Regions from separate parts of the Homo sapiens genome. Here regions 1 and 3 are each linked to region 2. Evidence: fine-mapped QTL for protein levels in blood plasma. Region 2 holds a variant in brackets. A gene starts in each other region. All regions are shown on their reverse strands.

Region 1 (5,222 bases), not on the chromosome of region 2:
TTTTACTATGTTAACCAGGCTGGTCTTGAACTCCTGACCTCAGGTGATCCGCCCGCCTCGGCCTCCCAAAGTGCTGGGATTAGTGGTGTGAGCCACCTTGCCCGGCCCCTCATAGGTGGTTTTAAACCATGAGAAGCTCTCAGAACAGCTCCGGGCACACGGCATATGTGGTGCTGCTTATAATGACCTTTACATGACCCTGTCAGTGAGGCCCCATTCACAGGTGGGTACACAGAGGCTGAGAAGGGAAAGGCAACTGCCCTAAGCTACATCTTCCGGGAGAAACAGCTGCTGGGAAGAGTTTAGCCTCATCAAGGCTTCCATAGCTGATAAAACAGAAACCTGCAGGAATGAAGGAGCAACAGCGGCTCCCTTGTCCTGGCTTGTGCCCTGGGCTTAGAAATCTCCAAAGCCCACCCTGAAAACCTCTCTGGGTGGCTGTCCCCAGCCTGCCCAATGCAGATGCCTCTTGGAGGGGTAAACTGCCGGTGTGAAGCAGGGCTGCCCTCCCTCCCTAGCACGCTGGACTTCTGCTCACACCTTCCCTCTCTCAGACTGGGGGTCCCCTCCCCTCCCTGGGGTCCTCGGGGGGCTGAGGTGCTGGGGGGTGCCATTCTCGCTCACCACTGAGGAGCAGCCAGCTGTACCCAGTCAGCGCCATCTTTCACCCCAAACCGAGTCTTGGAGATGGTGGCGTTGAAGTCCCAGTGCTCGGACTCCCTTCCTGGTTGGGGCTCGGCTCCGTCTGCCGCAGGACCTGGGAGGGTTTGGTGATTTGGAGCCAGGGGAGATCACCTGAATTTGGAGGGATCGAGTCACCAAGGATCTGGGGCCCGGTTTGGGTACCAGGGTGGGTGTGGCGGGCACCGGCCAGAGGCCGTGACCTGGGCAGGCCTCCTGGGGCAGCCGCCTAACCCTCTTTGTGCCGAGGGCCTGGATTTGGTACTGGGAGAGGAACCAGGTCACCGAGGAGAAGAGAGGAAAAGTAGGGGAAGGTTTTCGGGTAGTTCTTACCAACCACCCAGGCCCGTGGCCTCCTCAGAGAGCCTGGGAGTCACCAAGGAAGAAAATCAGTAAAAGGTGACTGCACCTTTCCCAGCCCCACCCAGTGCAGGGGACCTACAGGTGTTGTCTCAGCGGATGGCAAAACAACCCTGTAAAGTGGGCACCTTTAGGACCCCCCTTTGCAGATGGAGATGAGCTAGGTGGGGACTCCCACTTGTCCGGGTTCCTGCAGGGAGAGGGGATTTGAGCCCTGCTCTGTGTGCAAACCCAGACAGAAGGGCAGGAAACTGTATGGCCACATGCTTTCTTTGGGGCTCTCCTTCTTGTTGGCTTCCTGCAAAGTGCTCAGAAGTTCACATTCTCTTTCTCCCACTTCGGAGGCCTTGTTTTCCCCTCTCTGTCAAATGGGCGTATTCGGAGGCTTTGGGGCCAAGGAGAGCTGAGTTTTGACACCAGCTCTGCACTTACCCAAAGTGGGGCTGGGGACAGTCCCTTGTTGAGTCTCCATTTATTATTCTGATAAATAGAGATGATGGCCGGGTGCACTGGCTCATGCCTGTCATCCCAGCACTTCGGGAGGCCAAGGCAGGCGGATCATTTGAGGTCAGGAGTTCGAGATCAGCCTGGCCAACATGGCGAAACCCCATCTCTACTAAAAATAATAATAATAAAAATAGCCAGGCGTGGTGGCAGGTGCCTGTAGTCCCAGCACTTTGGGAGGCTGAGATGGGCAGATCACCTGAGGTGAGGAGTTTGCAACCAGCCTGACCAACATGGCGAAACCCCGTCTCTATTAAAAATATAAGTTAGCTGGGTGTGGTGGCTAACGCCTGTAATCCCAACACTTTGGGAGGCCAAGGCAGGTGGCTCACGAGGTCAGGAGTTCGAGACCAGCCTGGCCAATATGGTGAAACCTCGTATGTACTAAAAATATAAAAAATTAGCTGGGTGTGGTGGTGTGCACCTGTAGTCCCAGCTACTCGAGAGGCTGAGGCAGGAGAATCTCTTGAACCCAGGAGGTGGAGGTTGCAGCGAGCTGAGATCACACCACTGCACTCCAGCCTGGGTGACAGAGTGAGACTCTATCTCAAAAAACAAAAGCAAAAACAAAAAATAAAAGTTAGCCGGTCATGGTGGCACATGCCTGTAATCCCAGCTACTAGGGAGGCTGAGGTAGGAGAATCGCTTGAATCCAGGAGGTAGAGGTTGCAGTGAGCCGAGATCCTGCCACTGCACTCCAGCCTGGGTGACAGAGCAAGACTCCATTTCAAAAACAAACAAAAAAATAGAGATGATATGGACCCTACTTCAGGTTTGTTGACAGCAGTTAGTGAGAGGCTACAAGTCAGGGATTTAAGCCAGAGCCTGGTGGACGTGGGTCTGATTGGTATGCCTGTTATTAAAAGTATAGGCTCTGGCCGGGCGTGGTGGCTCATGGCCGGACGCAGTGGCTCATGCCTGTAGTCCTAGCACTTTGGGAGGCCGAGGTGGGTGGATCAACTGAGGTCAGGAGTTCAAGACCAGCCTGGCCAGCATGGTGAAACCCTGTCTCTACTAAAAATACAAAAATTAGCTGGGTGTGGTCGCGGGCACCTGTAATCCCAGCTACTTGGGAGGCTGAAGCAGGAGAATTGCTTGAACCCTGGGCAAAAGAGTGAAACTCCATCTCAAAAAAAAAAAAGTATAGGCTCTGGACATAGTTCCACTGTTTCCTACCTCCAGGACCCTGGGCAATTTATGGACTCTGCCAAGCCTCAGTTTCCTTATTTGTAAAATAGGGAAAACAATAGTACTCACATCACAGGGCTGTTGAAAGGATTAAGTAGATACACATGTGAAGTACAGTACTTACCACGACTGGCGCAGAGTAAATGCTCAGTAAATCACTCATTCACTTATTGGACAAATACTGAATGAGCACCTATTGTTTGCCAGGTGCTGTTCTAGGCGCTGAGGATGCAGCCGTGCACAAGACGGATGAAATCCCTGCCCTCAGGGGGCCGACATTTGCGGAGTAAATAAAGGAAAGGTAAATATCTTCCACGTCAGATTGAAAAATAAAGTCAGAAAGGGGATTTGCCATTTTATTTTTTGTAGAGATGGGATCTCGCTATGTTGCTCTGCCTGGTCTCAAACTCTTGGCCTCAAGTGATCTTCCCACCTTGGCCTCCCAAAGTGCTGGGATTACAGCCATGAGCCACTGCCCCTGGCCTGGTTTGCTACTTTAAATTGGGGTGGAGGGAGGGTAACAGGGAAGGTGTCTCTGAGATGATGCTGGGCAGGAGCCGAGGGGGTTGTGGTGCCAGAGCTGCTGATAGCTGTGTTCTTATGACCTGCATCCTGATGGCTTCTGAGTCCTGGTTCCTCTGAGGCCTCTGCAGCCTGCTTCCGGGCAGGGGGCCACACCTGTGCTCACCTGTCCTGGTTTGCCTCCAGCACTGTGTCCTGGGCTGCCCTCGTGGGGCAGGGCTCTAACAAGGGGGAGAAGGCCCTGAGGAGGTGCGGGTGAGGCCAGGTGAGAGGCACAGAGGATGTCCTGGCGCCTCCTGCTCCCCTCTCCCCACCTGTGACCTCACCTCACTCTTCTGCGTCCTGGCCCAGAGCACTGGGACCTCATCCCAGTATCAATCAGGATGCCTCCCTGATGTCCCTGGGCACCTCTCACTCACCTTGTCCCAAACTGACCTTGGCATCTTCCCCCAGAAGTGTATCTTCCCCTGGTGCCCTTATCAGGGAAGGCGCCACTACCCACCTCATCGCTGGGAAAAGAGACCTGGGGCCTCATCCCTGATGCCTCCCCCTACTCCCCGAACACGCCACCCCTTCTGGCAACTGACTCTACGTATATCTTCTCTCCCTCCCTGAAGCCCCTGCCCTGGTCTAGGTGACCACTCCACCACCCCACCTTGCCTGGGTCCTCCTGTCTCCCCACCAGCCTCCTCCCTAGTCTCTGGCCCTGGTCTCCCCGACTCCCATTGCCCCTCCACATGGCAGACAGAGGCTCTTTCCAAAACAAAAACCTGCCTCTGCCCCTCCGTGCTCAGAACCTGCTGTGGCTCCCCAGTGCCCTTGGGAGGAAGCCCAGGTTCCTCACTGTAGCCCAGGAGGCCCTGCCCGGCCTGACTCCTGCCCACCTGACCAGCTACATAGAATACCACTTGCTTCCGGGAACCCTCTGCTTCAGTTCTTCTGTTTCACTTGCACTCTACCCAGAATATCCCTGCTTCCCTCTGCTCTATTCCACTGCCTTCCCCAAACCCTCTCCTCCAGGAAGCCCTCCTGGACTTCAGGGCCTGGAATTCCCTGTCTCAGCCCTGACTGCCTTGGGTTCTCGCTGTCTGGGGCTGGGTCTTTTTCCCCCACTGGCCTGGGAGCCTCAGCTGGGCACGGCTGGGCTGTCACCACTGTGTCCCCAGCACTGCCCAGCAAATCACCTGGCACAGAGCAGAGGCTCACAGCATGTTTGTGGAACTGGACACCAGGTGTGGATGACACAGAGAGAGGAGTCTTCAGAGAGGCTCAGGTTCCTGGTGATCTGCTGTCTGCCTGCGGAGTGTGACCAGGCCGGGCTCTAGAGGCCCTCTATCGTCACATCCACCCTTCCTAGTCTGCCCCCATCCTCCACCTCCCTGGCCCCTCCTCTGGTGCTCCCGGCTGTGAGCCCAGATCCTTGGTTCAGTCAAGAGCTGCAGGCTCTTTAGCACCTGCTGTGCGCCGCCGGGCTGCGCAGAAAGCAGACGGGGTTCTTGTGGGCAGGGGCTTTTTCCTGTTTGTGCAGTGGGTGGGGGGTGTTCATGACATTGACTTCCCTGGGACTCTTCTGAGGATCAAAATAGGCACATGGAGTGTTCCGTGCCGGGCCTGCCTCAGAGCACGTACTGGGGGCACAGTGGTCGTTGTTCCTCCACCATTTGACAAATGTTTATGGAGCACCAACTATGTGCCGGGCACTGCGCTAGGCGCTGTGGGGTTACAGCCGTGAATACGGTAGACACAGAGCTGACCTATTGATTGGGGAGACAGTTAATAGACGAATACAAACATGAGCAGTGTTAGAACAGGTGGGGACAATGCTGTGGAGAAAAATAAAGCAGGGGAAGGGATGGAGGTGGTCGGGGCACTGGTTTATGCAGGGCAGCAAGGCGACATTGTCAGAGCGACATTGGAGTAGAGGTTCAATAAGGGGGGCCGGGCGCGGTGGCTCACACCTGTAATCC
Region 2 (5,222 bases):
ATCTCTACTAAAAATACAAAAATTAGCTGGGCGTGGTGGAGCGTCCCTGTAGTCCCAGCTACTGGGGAGGTTGAGGCAGGAGAATCGCTTGAACCTGGGAGGTGGAGGTTGCTGTGAGCTGAGATCGTGCCACTGCACTCCAGCCTGGCGACAGAGTGAGACTCCATCTCAAAAAAAACAAAACAAAACAAACAAACAAAAATCCTGAAGCATCTACCATCCTAAAGGCGTGAACAGGTTTCTAACTCCTCAACGTACCAGGGAGGGCTCAGCAGCAGTGAGAAATCTTACAGTGTGGGGCAGCTTCTGTGCTGAGGGTGCGTGGTTATGAATATTGCAACATGATATGTCTCACCCAGAAAACCCACCATGCAGTCCCAGGCTGAATCTTCATCCCTGTCTCAGGGTTCTAACTCGAGTTGACTCTACTTCAAAGGAAGGAAAGCTTGTTTGGTCAAATACCCGTGGAGCGTCGGTTTCAGGAATGTGACATGCTGTTAAACCACAGCCGTGTATGCTTGCGGCCGCTGAGATTTTTCAAGGATGAAAGTTTCACTTTTCAAAGAAAAACATGGCACCATGTAAGCTGGAGAAACATAAGGTAAATGGTGTCAATTGGCCCCAAGAAGTATTTCTTCCAGAGAACACCTACTACATGTACATTCCAGGGGAGGCTGGAGAGGTATGTGAAAATGGACTAAATGTATAAGATTAGAACAATGAGACACAGTTCCTGCCTCCCAGCACATTTCAGGAGGTGGAGACAAAGGACAGCTGGGATGGGTAGAGGACAATGTCAGTGCATGGGATTATGGGGACCCGGGGAGGACTGGGGAAGGAAGCAGGATGTGACCCCAGAGGCCAGGTCAAGCGAATGGTCAGCATGGGCAGGTTGGGGGAACTAGGGGTGGTTGGAGCAGACACAGGACCTGGAGCAGGAAACACCAAGTCACAGGGCAGGGGAGAGGTCCCTGGGCAGTCAACACAGGGCACTTGGTGCCTTTCTGAGGTCACATATCTGGGCTCCCACTTCCACATCTGCCTCTGAGGTTTGGGAGAATGATCACCAAAGACTGCTGAATGCCTCTGGAATAGGACGTGGGGATGTCCCATCTCCACAGCCCCAGGCATTTCAAAGTGGGTATCTGAGGAACTGAATTAATACAGAATCACATTTCGGAGATTCACAACTGTTTAATTTTGGAAGGGGGATGGGGGGTCATCTAACCCAAGCTCACCCTCCATGTCTTGATCTCTGTGGCGGCTTAGGTATCCAGCTTTGTATTTGGCTGCCTCTGTTGACAGAGAGCTCACTCTCTCCCTCTCACAAGGTAGCCTGTTTCATCACCAAAGGGCTGGAGTTGTCTCAGAATGTTTTCCTTACATGGCGCCAGCATCTCTCTCCTACTTTACCCTCCTAAGAGCATGCTCTGTCCCTCAGAACGGGTCTGAACCTGTGTTTACTACAGCAGCCCTTTGACTGTCTAAAGGAGCCACCGCAACCTCCCTATACGTCCCTCGTTCCTCCCTAGGTGCTTTTGTGCGGTGGCTCCCGCACCTGGTTGCGGTCATCCGAAGGCTGATTAGTTTGCCCGCGTTCTTTGGAAACTGTGCTCCCTGCTCCCTCAAAACTGACAGCGATTTTCCAGGTAGAGTGAAAGCAACATAAGCCACACGTGGGCAGTGTGGGGGCAATGCTGGAAACCTGGGCCGCTGACCCCATAGACCACCAAGGGTTGGCGGCTGCTTCAGGAACTGAAAGACGCGCAGGTCAGCCCAGCCTGGGATGACCCCTTCCAGAGGGGCCAGGCAGCCTTGACCAGACCTGGTGCTAAGTACTTGCTAAGCCCTGGGTGGCCTGTAGCTTCTCACTGTCCGGGGTAAAAGCAAGCCCTGGGCCAGAGTCTTGTACACTGGAATTCGTGGACACTGGTGGGGAAAACCACTGGCCTCTGAGCCTGGCATAGAAGGGAGAAGCCCGCCCCCTTGTGGATCTCTGGAGAGTAACAGGGTGCAAAAAGCACTGAAACCCCAACCGGAGACAGGGAGTCTCGGGGAGCAGCCACCTCCTCTCAGCGCTCCCATTTCACCAACCACCTCTGGGGACCTGCAAGAGAATTGATCTGTGCTGGCACGGGAGTGGTAGCAGGGGACATAAAAGGAAGCTAGGAAGTTGAGACCCCTGGATTATGTCTGGCAACAGCGAGTTAGAAATCGGGCAAGTGTTATTAGCTGTTTAAAAAAAGAAAGAAAAAAAATGGCATCTGGAGGTCTTTCCTGGTTCTGCCACTCCCTGTGTGGCCCCAGGAAAACTACAGTCTGTCTCTGGGCCTCCAAGGACCTTGCTAGGTAAAGGCTCCAATCCCTCTGAATGCTGAAGCCTCAGGCTTTCACATCTCAGTCCTGACAGTGGTCTGTGGTTGGTGGCAACACAGTCCTGATTGAAGAGAACATGGGAGGCAGCAAGGGCCAAGGGCATTGCGCAAGGGGAAGCAGAGGGCACCAGCTTGGTCGCCCACCCGCAGCAGCCCTGGACAGCACAGCACCCCTAT[C/T]GCTACACCATGCTGCTAGGAGCCCGAAGGGTCATTTTCCAGAGTGAGTCCAAGAGGGGTCATGTCCCCTCCTTCCACAGTTTTGGCCAAATCTACATCATTTCTCCATCACGTGGACACCAGCCCAGAGGTGACTGTGCCATAAAACATACTTGACCCAGAGAGATGTGACCCAGGCCCATTGTCCAAGACAGCAGCCTTGCTCACATGCTTCCAGACTGCCTTTCCTCTGCACAAAGCACATGATCAAAGATTGTGTTTTTAACGTATTTTCAAGATGAATTCTTTGCTACTCTGTAACTGATCAGGATAATTGGGCTAAATCTAGCCCTGGGAAATGCAAACCAGAAGCACTTTCCTCGAAGCTCCCCAGATTAAAAAATGAATGATATGTTAAGATGGCTCAGATTTCCGACTGCACTACATTCGCAGAGAAACAGAGCCACTAAGTCAGCGAAGATAGTGTTTTAAAGGCCAGCTGTCCTCCAGAAGAATGAAAAGTATTAAAACTCTTTTAGATGGGGCACAGTGGCTCATGCCTGTAATCCCAGCACTTTGGGAGGCCAAGGCGGATGAATCACTTGAGGTCAGGAGTTCGAGACCAGCCTGGCCAATGTGGTAGAACCCCATCTCTACCCAAAATACAAAAATTAGCCAGGCATGGTGCCATGCGCCTGTAGTGTCAGCTACTCAAGTGGCTGAGGCACAAGAATCACTTGAACCCGGAAGGTGGAGGTTGCAGTGAGCTGAGATTGTACCACTACACTCCAGCCTGGGCTACAGGGCAAGGCTGTTTCAAAAAAAAAAAAAAAGCTGTTTTAAAATGGCTTTGTGCCGGGTGCAGTGGCTCACGCCTGTAATCCCAGCACTCTGGGAGGCCAAGGTGGGTGGATCACCTGAGGTCAGGGGTTCAAGACCACCCTGGCCAACATGGTGGAACCCCTATCTCTACCAAAAATATAAAAATTAGCCGGGCATGGTGGTGTGCATATATAATCCCAGCTACTCGGGAGGCTGAGGCAGGTGAATCGCTTGAACCCAGGAGGCGGAGGTTGCAGTGAGCCAAGATTGTGCCACTACACTCCAGCCTGGGTGACACAGTGAGACTCTGTCTCAAAAAATAAATAAAATAAAATTTAAAAATGCCTTTGTAGAAATTATCTGAAATAATTATGCCCTCAGTCTAGCATGCTCCTAGCTGGAAATGTCCAGGAAAAATGTTAGGGGTAGAAGAGTCATCTCTGCACACTATAGTACACTAAAGCTTTGGCTGAAACTACATAGCCTGAAATGTCTCATTTTTTAACGGCATTATGAGTTATTACATAAACATCCTTTAAAATTCAGAGCAGTCCAACAATAAGAACAACCCAAGTTCTACCTAAAAAACTATAGTCAGGTAGAATATGTAACTGTAGACAGAACACTTTTCAAACACCTATTTAGACCACCTGGTTTCTGCAGTATTGCCAAATTCTAAAATTGTAATGAAAAATGTAAAGTTTGAAACCTACAAGTCATCAGAGGTTCAGTGAGCAGATTGTGCCATTCCAAAACCAAAAATGTGCTTGCATAAGCAAGTCACTGGGGCTAACCTTTCTGGATTGAGAGTCTGGCCTTCAGTTCAGACTGTGGCTATGCCAGGGTCAGAAATGTGACAAAACTGCGCTTTCACGGAGGTTAGCCAAGGTTCACAGGGTCATGACTGGGCCATTTTATCAGTCATGTCAGGCTCACACCCTATTGCCTGGGATAGATAAAAACTTTATCTGTCAGTCTGCTAAATCTGCTCCTCCTGCCTCATTTTGAATAAAGAAAACCTGGGCTCAGCTTATCTTAACCAGAGATGCGCCTTTCCTAATACTGTTTCCATATGCAACTTCTAAGTAAAGGTGACACGCCAATGATTTCTGGTCTCATTTTAGTCAAGAGCTGTCCATAACTGGAGTGACTGGCTTTGTCTTATCTAAAACCGTAACTTCAGAGAACAGTTCTGGCACTATTGGACAACACAGATTTATTATGTTTATGACATGTTAGATAAGCTGGAGAGGTTAGAGTGACAGTTCTCAGTGTTACCTTTTCAGGTTCATCTTTCCCTAAAGTACAGCAAACCAAAAAAAAATTAAATTAACTTGGATCAATTTTCCAAATAGGGAATCTAAGTGACTGTAGAAGAATTTACAGAGATACGTCTGGAATAACACACACAGACATATATTTTCTAATAACTGTTAACATAAAAAACAGCTAAGATTTCTTCTCACAGAAAACAGATGCAAAGATGACAAATAAGTCCAGGTAGGCATTGTAAAATCTGGTTAAATACACTAAGAAAATACTAAACTGGTGAGTTTTACCCAACAGGAATCTTAAAATACCAGAAAAGTACCTTCAAATTTTACTTTATTTGGAAATGATACAAATTCATTATTTTAATATTTAAAGATTGTGGTAGTATAGTCAAAACACATAAATATTATAATATACATTTAGAAATTAAATATAAAGTCAACACAACACTCCTTAAAAACTCATATGTACACTTCCAATAAGTCTCAGGTTTGAACATTCAAGCTCATCAGATTTCCCCATGGAAATGGGTGAATCTTGCAGGGAGATTGTCCACAGGATACACGGTGGGACTGGTTTTCATTGTAGGAGGTCCAT
Region 3 (5,222 bases), not on the chromosome of region 2:
TTAGCCCTAATATCCATGGGTGTGAGGGGCGTCAGATTAAAACAAAACAAAACAAAAAACTCTGCAATTTCTTTCTTTAGCTAACGTGTTGTTTTCCACATATTGAAGTAACTTTAAAGTTCCAGTCTTCTAGCAAGGAGGAGAGCGTTTGCTAATTTCCAAGCATTTGCACTGTTCCACTCACACTCGCTGGGTACAGATTCAAATGGTGGCTGGGCAGCATTAGCAGTGAGTCCACTGTGGCAGAAGCAGCAAAGTCCCTGTCCATCCAGAGATCAGGCCTGAGATCTTAGCAACTTCTGCTCACAGACTGGTGGCTCCAGATGTGGCTACAGGACCTAAACCATGATCTCATGTCTGTATCCAGATCCTATAGGAGCCAAGGCTCTGGAATGAGCAGTGAATGGACAAAAGTTTCCACTGGGCCTGGGCACAATTTCCTCAGGCATCTTCTCAGAAAGAGAGCTCTGCCCACCCTACATTTCAAACCACAGAGCAGCACTGGACTGGAAAACCAGAAGCCACGGGATGATTTGAAATCATTTGTTCTATTTTCCCTCCTTCGGGAGTCAGCTGCAGCCTATAAACTGGGGACAAAGCAGTACTTAGAGTTGTATGAAAGAATGCCAGGTGCCTTCTTCCCTTCTCTCCTGGAAAAATGATACCAGTATTGATACTCTATTTTTTCCTGTGTCTGACACTGTCACCTTGATTCTGAGTCTGCAACAAATGTCTGAATGTCAAGAGGCCAGCTGCCAATACGTAGCCCTGACCGAGCAAGGTATCATCTGATGCCTTGGTGACACCTCAGCTTTTCCAAGAACCAGTGGATTTTAGGCACTGTGGCTAACCTGTGTCCCAATGTGGGCAGTTTGTTACTTTTATGTTGGAACTTGTTCTTTTTTTTAATGCTTATATAAGCAACACAGGTTTCATGCTTTTAAGTGAAGCCCTGCCTGTTCTCATTCATTCTTTCTCCATCCTTCCCCCAGATCTCTCCCAAGCACAAAAATTAATAAATAAGTAAAAAGTAAGACCTCCAAAAACTAGTTTTTTTTGTTTGTTTGCTTTGTTTTGTTTTTGTTTTTTAGATGGAGTTTTGCTCTTGTTGCCCAGGCTGGAGTGCAATGGTTCAATCTCGGCTCACCGCAACCTCCACCTCCCAGGTTCAAGCAATTCTCCTGCCTCAGCCTCCCAAGTAGCTGGGATTATAGGCATGCGCCACCACGCCCGGCTAATTTTTTGTATTTTTAGTAGAGACGGAGTTTCTCCATGTTGGTCAGGCTGGTCTCGAACTCTCGACCTCAGGTGATCCACCTGCCTCAGCCTCTCAAAGTGCTGGGATTACAGGCATGAGCCACCATGCCCGGCCAACCACATCATTTTTTTAGATGTCTTGAAATGTTTTCTTTGAGGTATTGTGAGGGTAATAGTATGGGGATTTCGAGAGAAGTTGTCGTCTTAACAAATAATAATTAAAACCTGTAAAATTAAATGTCTGGAGATACTTCAAAGCTGTTCAAATGTGTTTGCAAACATCCCCTTAACTGATTCACACAAAATCCAGACAAAGGGAAAGTTATCATAGCTTCCTAATCATAACTAAAATAACAATTCTGTTTTAGGATTTAAAAGAATAATGAAATACAACAATACTAAATTATCCAAAAAAAGACAGAGAGAGAGAAAGCTTTGACATTGTAAGTAAGTTAAAAAGAAAAAAAAATGAGAAGGAACATCTTAAAGGAAACATTTTATACAAAAATGTGTTACGCCAGGTAGAAGCTGATACAACACAGACGCATCTGTGTTGCAGGAAAGAGGATAACTATGCTTAGCCCTGTCTGAGACTGGAGTATAATACTAAGGATGCAGTACACGGGTCCTGAGAGGTACTTCCCAATTCATTTTAACTCTTCATGGAGGTGATAGGAGACTAATTACACTGCCCGGATTTTCAGGCTCGGGAACGGAGGCACCTGAGCCACCACTTTTGAGCTCATCTGCATTGGCCACCTCCCTCCCTCCAGTAAGTAAAGCTTGGGCAACTGGCACTCTTACCTGGGAGGCTGCTGGGTGCCTCTTCCAATGCTGCTGCTCCTGTGAGCCGGTCTCCTCCTGCCGCAGACCTTGGTACTTGCTGGTCGTCCCTGGTTCTCGTCTCTCCTTGGCTTCCCTTCCTGGGTTTAAATCCTGTCTAGGCCAGAGGAGGAGCAAATGGAGACTCCTGGTGTTTTCCTCCCTTCCTAGCAGGGACTCTGCTAAAAGATAATGAGCAATTCCTTCTCTTATTCTAACTAGGAAAGAAAAATATATACATTTCCTTCTTCTTTTTCACTTTGATTACACAGCAGCTAAAAATACTGGAGGCTGTTTCCATTTAAGTGAATCCAGAATAAGGATATTAAAAGAGTTTGCCTGTCTCCTGGCCAGGAGCTGGGTCTCGGGGTTCAAAAGTGCATTTATAAAGTTTCTTTCTCTTTTTCCTGTTTCAGGCATTCTGGGACTTCCTGCCTACTGCTTTTAAAATGGGAAAAAGCCTTTAGCACAGAAAGAAATGAGCAGAGACCCTCAGGGACAGAAGCTCTTCTGACTTCCCTCCTCCTTCATCCATCGTCTCACACTTGTGAGTGGCAGGACTCTGAAGTGGGGGCAGGAATAACAGACTGGGGACATTCGGTCCCACAAGCCCACTCTGACCCTCACCCCATCCCAAATGCCTCCCACACGCCAACAGTACAAGAGCTCCAAAATCAGGAAAGAATAGTCGTGCCCCTTTCTGGCTGCCCTTCCTCTTTTGCCCTCAGATGGACAGGCCTTCATCCTTCCTATGAACCAGAGTCATTTCAATAGGGCATGGGCTGACACCTGCCACCCTTCCTTACACCCCATCCCTCTCCTGCTCTGTGGGAAGTAGATTCTGGAGTGCAGATCCACAACAAAATGAAGGAGACCATATGTTTCCAGTTCACCTATGTCAGCATCAAATGCTGCTGGAGGGAAAGGAGAAGGAGAGACGGGGGACCAAAAAGTGGCCCCCAGAAATTGGAGGGGGGTTCCCAGAGGCAGCTTGCCTGGATCTGAAGCTTGTGTCTGCTACTTGCAAATGACCTTTGACAACTTCTTTGTGGCTCAGCTTACTCGTCTGTAAAATAGGAATAGTGTCTTATGGTTATTGTGAGGTTCAAATGAGTAGATGGGGTAAAGAACTTAGACTAGTCCCAAGACACAATGAGGACTTGGTAAAGATTACCTGCTACCATGATTATTATAACTTTTTAATTCTCCTTATGTATCCCACTAAATCATATTTGATCCTCTCCACCTCAGTCCAGGTAGGTTCATAGTTCTCTGCCCTTCACTTACAACCACAAATAATCCTGCTATCTGGCCCTGGAATCTGGGCCAGCCATATACAGAGGTGACCAGTGCAGTAGGAACCAGGGTCACCAGAAAATTTCCCAACTCCCAAACATCTCTTTTCTCCCTTGGACTATTTTCTCTGCTTCTTAAAAGGGAAAATCTCTCCCAGAGGATCCTAAGACTCTATTGCGCCCTCAAGTTGCTCTCCTATTCTTAATTTCCTTTCACTAACTCTCCCCAAATGAGTGGTCTTCACCAACTCTCTCCGTGACCCCATTTTCCATGCCCTCAATAGGAATAACTAAACCAGTGCACCAGGCTCCTAAGAAGCCACCTTCCTCCAATCTCTCCTTATTACAGCTGGTATTAGTTAGTTGCAGGACATGGAGCTGTAGCAAAGAGACCCTCCAATGCAGTGACTTAACAACATAGATGATTTCTCCCCAAACAGTAGAAGACAGTGGCCCAGGGCTGGTAGGGCAGTGCCACCATCCACAGCACACACCCACCACTCTCTAGGGTCATCATCTCCCAGCCAACAGGAAGGGTAAAGGGATGAGGGCAGATGGAAGTGCGTGCTCATTCCTTACAAACACAAAAACAAAAACTTTTTATTTTATAATTATTTCAGACTTGCAGAAAAATTGCAAAAATATTAAAAGAATCCCTGTATACCCTTCACTCATATTCTCCAAGTGTTAACATTTTGTCATATTTGCCAATCATTCATTCTCTCTTAATAGTTTTCCCTGAAAACATTTGAGAGCAAATTAAAGACATGATTTATCTCTTTACCCATTTATGTCTAAAAACTTTAGTATAGGGTGTTTCCCAACAACAAGGGCATACTCTCTCATAACCTCAATACAATGATCAAAATCAGAAATTGACATTGACATAATACTATTGTCTAATTTACAGACGATATTCAAATTCCATTGATTGTTTCTCTAATGTCTTTTATAGCAAAAGAAAAATAATTTACAGACCCAGGATTCAATTCAGGATAATTAATTGCATTTAGTTGTCCTGTCTTTAAAATTTCCTTAAGTTGGAATAGTTCTTCAATCTTTATCTTTCATGACCTTAACATTTTTGAAGAGAAAACGTCAGTTATTTTAAAGAATGTCCTCAGTTTGCATTTGTGTGGTATTTTTTCATGCCTAGATTTAGGCCATACGTTTTTGGCAGGCAGCGGCAGAAGCGGCGTGTCTTTGGTCCATCACATCAGGAGACACTTGATGGCAGTCTGTCCCAGTGTTGGTGATGTTACCTTGGACCACTTGGTTAGGGTGATATCTGCCAGGTTTCTCCACAGTAAATATTTGCCCTTTTTTATTTAACAGGTATATTGTGGGATGATGTTTTTAAACCATGTAAATATTCTGCTTCTTTTTATATTTTCACTCACTAGTTTTAACACCCATTGTTGATTCTTGCCTGGAACAATTACTACTATGCTGGCTGCCAAATGGCGATTTTCCTAATTTCATCTTTCTTTTTATGTTTACTAGATAGAATTCTATTATAAAAAGTAATTTTTCTTCCCCCACCTTTATTTTATTAATCACCTTATATTCAAAGTGACTCATATTCTTTTTTTCATTCTATGGGTTATATTCCTGTACTATCATTATTTTGTTGCTCAAATTGCCCCAGATTTGGCCAGGGTGAACCCTTCAGGCTGGTTACTGTGTGCTTTTAACACACTTCCATCATTCTTTGAGTGTTTCCTTACTTTTGGCACAGCAAGATATTCCAGACTGATCTTGCACTTCTCCTACCCAGTCCTTTAGAAGCAGCCATTTCTCCAAATATCTTTATTTCTTTCTATTGGAGAATGATGCACATTTTGGATA

Which allele goes with the higher level. Positions count from the first base shown, and alleles are read on the strand shown. Strength reflects both the effect of a copy and how common the allele is.
For the plasma level of the protein whose gene starts at base 2,967 in region 1, C is the high allele of the variant in region 2 and T is the other (weak association).
As copies of C replace T in region 2, the plasma level of the protein whose gene starts at base 2,164 in region 3 goes up (weak association).

Evidence for each region. A credible set is the group of variants that fine-mapping cannot tell apart. PIP is the posterior inclusion probability: the model's chance that the variant is causal. The UK Biobank Pharma Proteomics Project read protein levels with antibody pairs (Olink). The fine-mapping took linkage between variants from a reference panel, not from the people measured, so its PIPs are less certain.
Region 1: it holds the start of CEACAM16, and the variant in region 2 is the best candidate, but not a certain one, in a credible set for the plasma level of the CEACAM16 protein (UK Biobank, PIP 0.51).
Region 3: TNN starts here. The variant in region 2 is the best candidate, but not a certain one, in a credible set for the plasma level of the TNN protein (UK Biobank, PIP 0.58).

What each region holds. Positions count from the first base shown.
Region 1 is chr19:44,696,896-44,702,117 of GRCh38, reverse strand. CEACAM16 (CEA cell adhesion molecule 16, tectorial membrane component) reads right to left here and starts at 2,967. Exons shown (of 7, transcript NM_001039213.4): 1 at 2,858-2,967; 2 at 625-757. The coding sequence starts at 661. CEACAM16-AS1 (CEACAM16, CEACAM19 and PVR antisense RNA 1) reads left to right here. Exons shown (of 2, transcript NR_186815.1): 2 at 2,941-3,080. RefSeq lists an enhancer at 4,795-5,222.
Region 2 is chr10:93,077,216-93,082,437 of GRCh38, reverse strand. CYP26A1 (cytochrome P450 family 26 subfamily A member 1) reads right to left here. Exons shown (of 7, transcript NM_000783.4): 7 at 4,553-5,222. The coding sequence ends at 5,134. Among named protein-coding and RNA genes, the nearest start is that of CYP26A1, 5.9 kb to the right of the region's middle. The variant C/T (reference allele first, on the strand shown) is at 2,553.
Region 3 is chr1:175,064,775-175,069,996 of GRCh38, reverse strand. TNN (tenascin N) reads right to left here and starts at 2,164. Exons shown (of 19, transcript NM_022093.2): 1 at 2,062-2,164. RefSeq lists an enhancer at 1,644-2,843.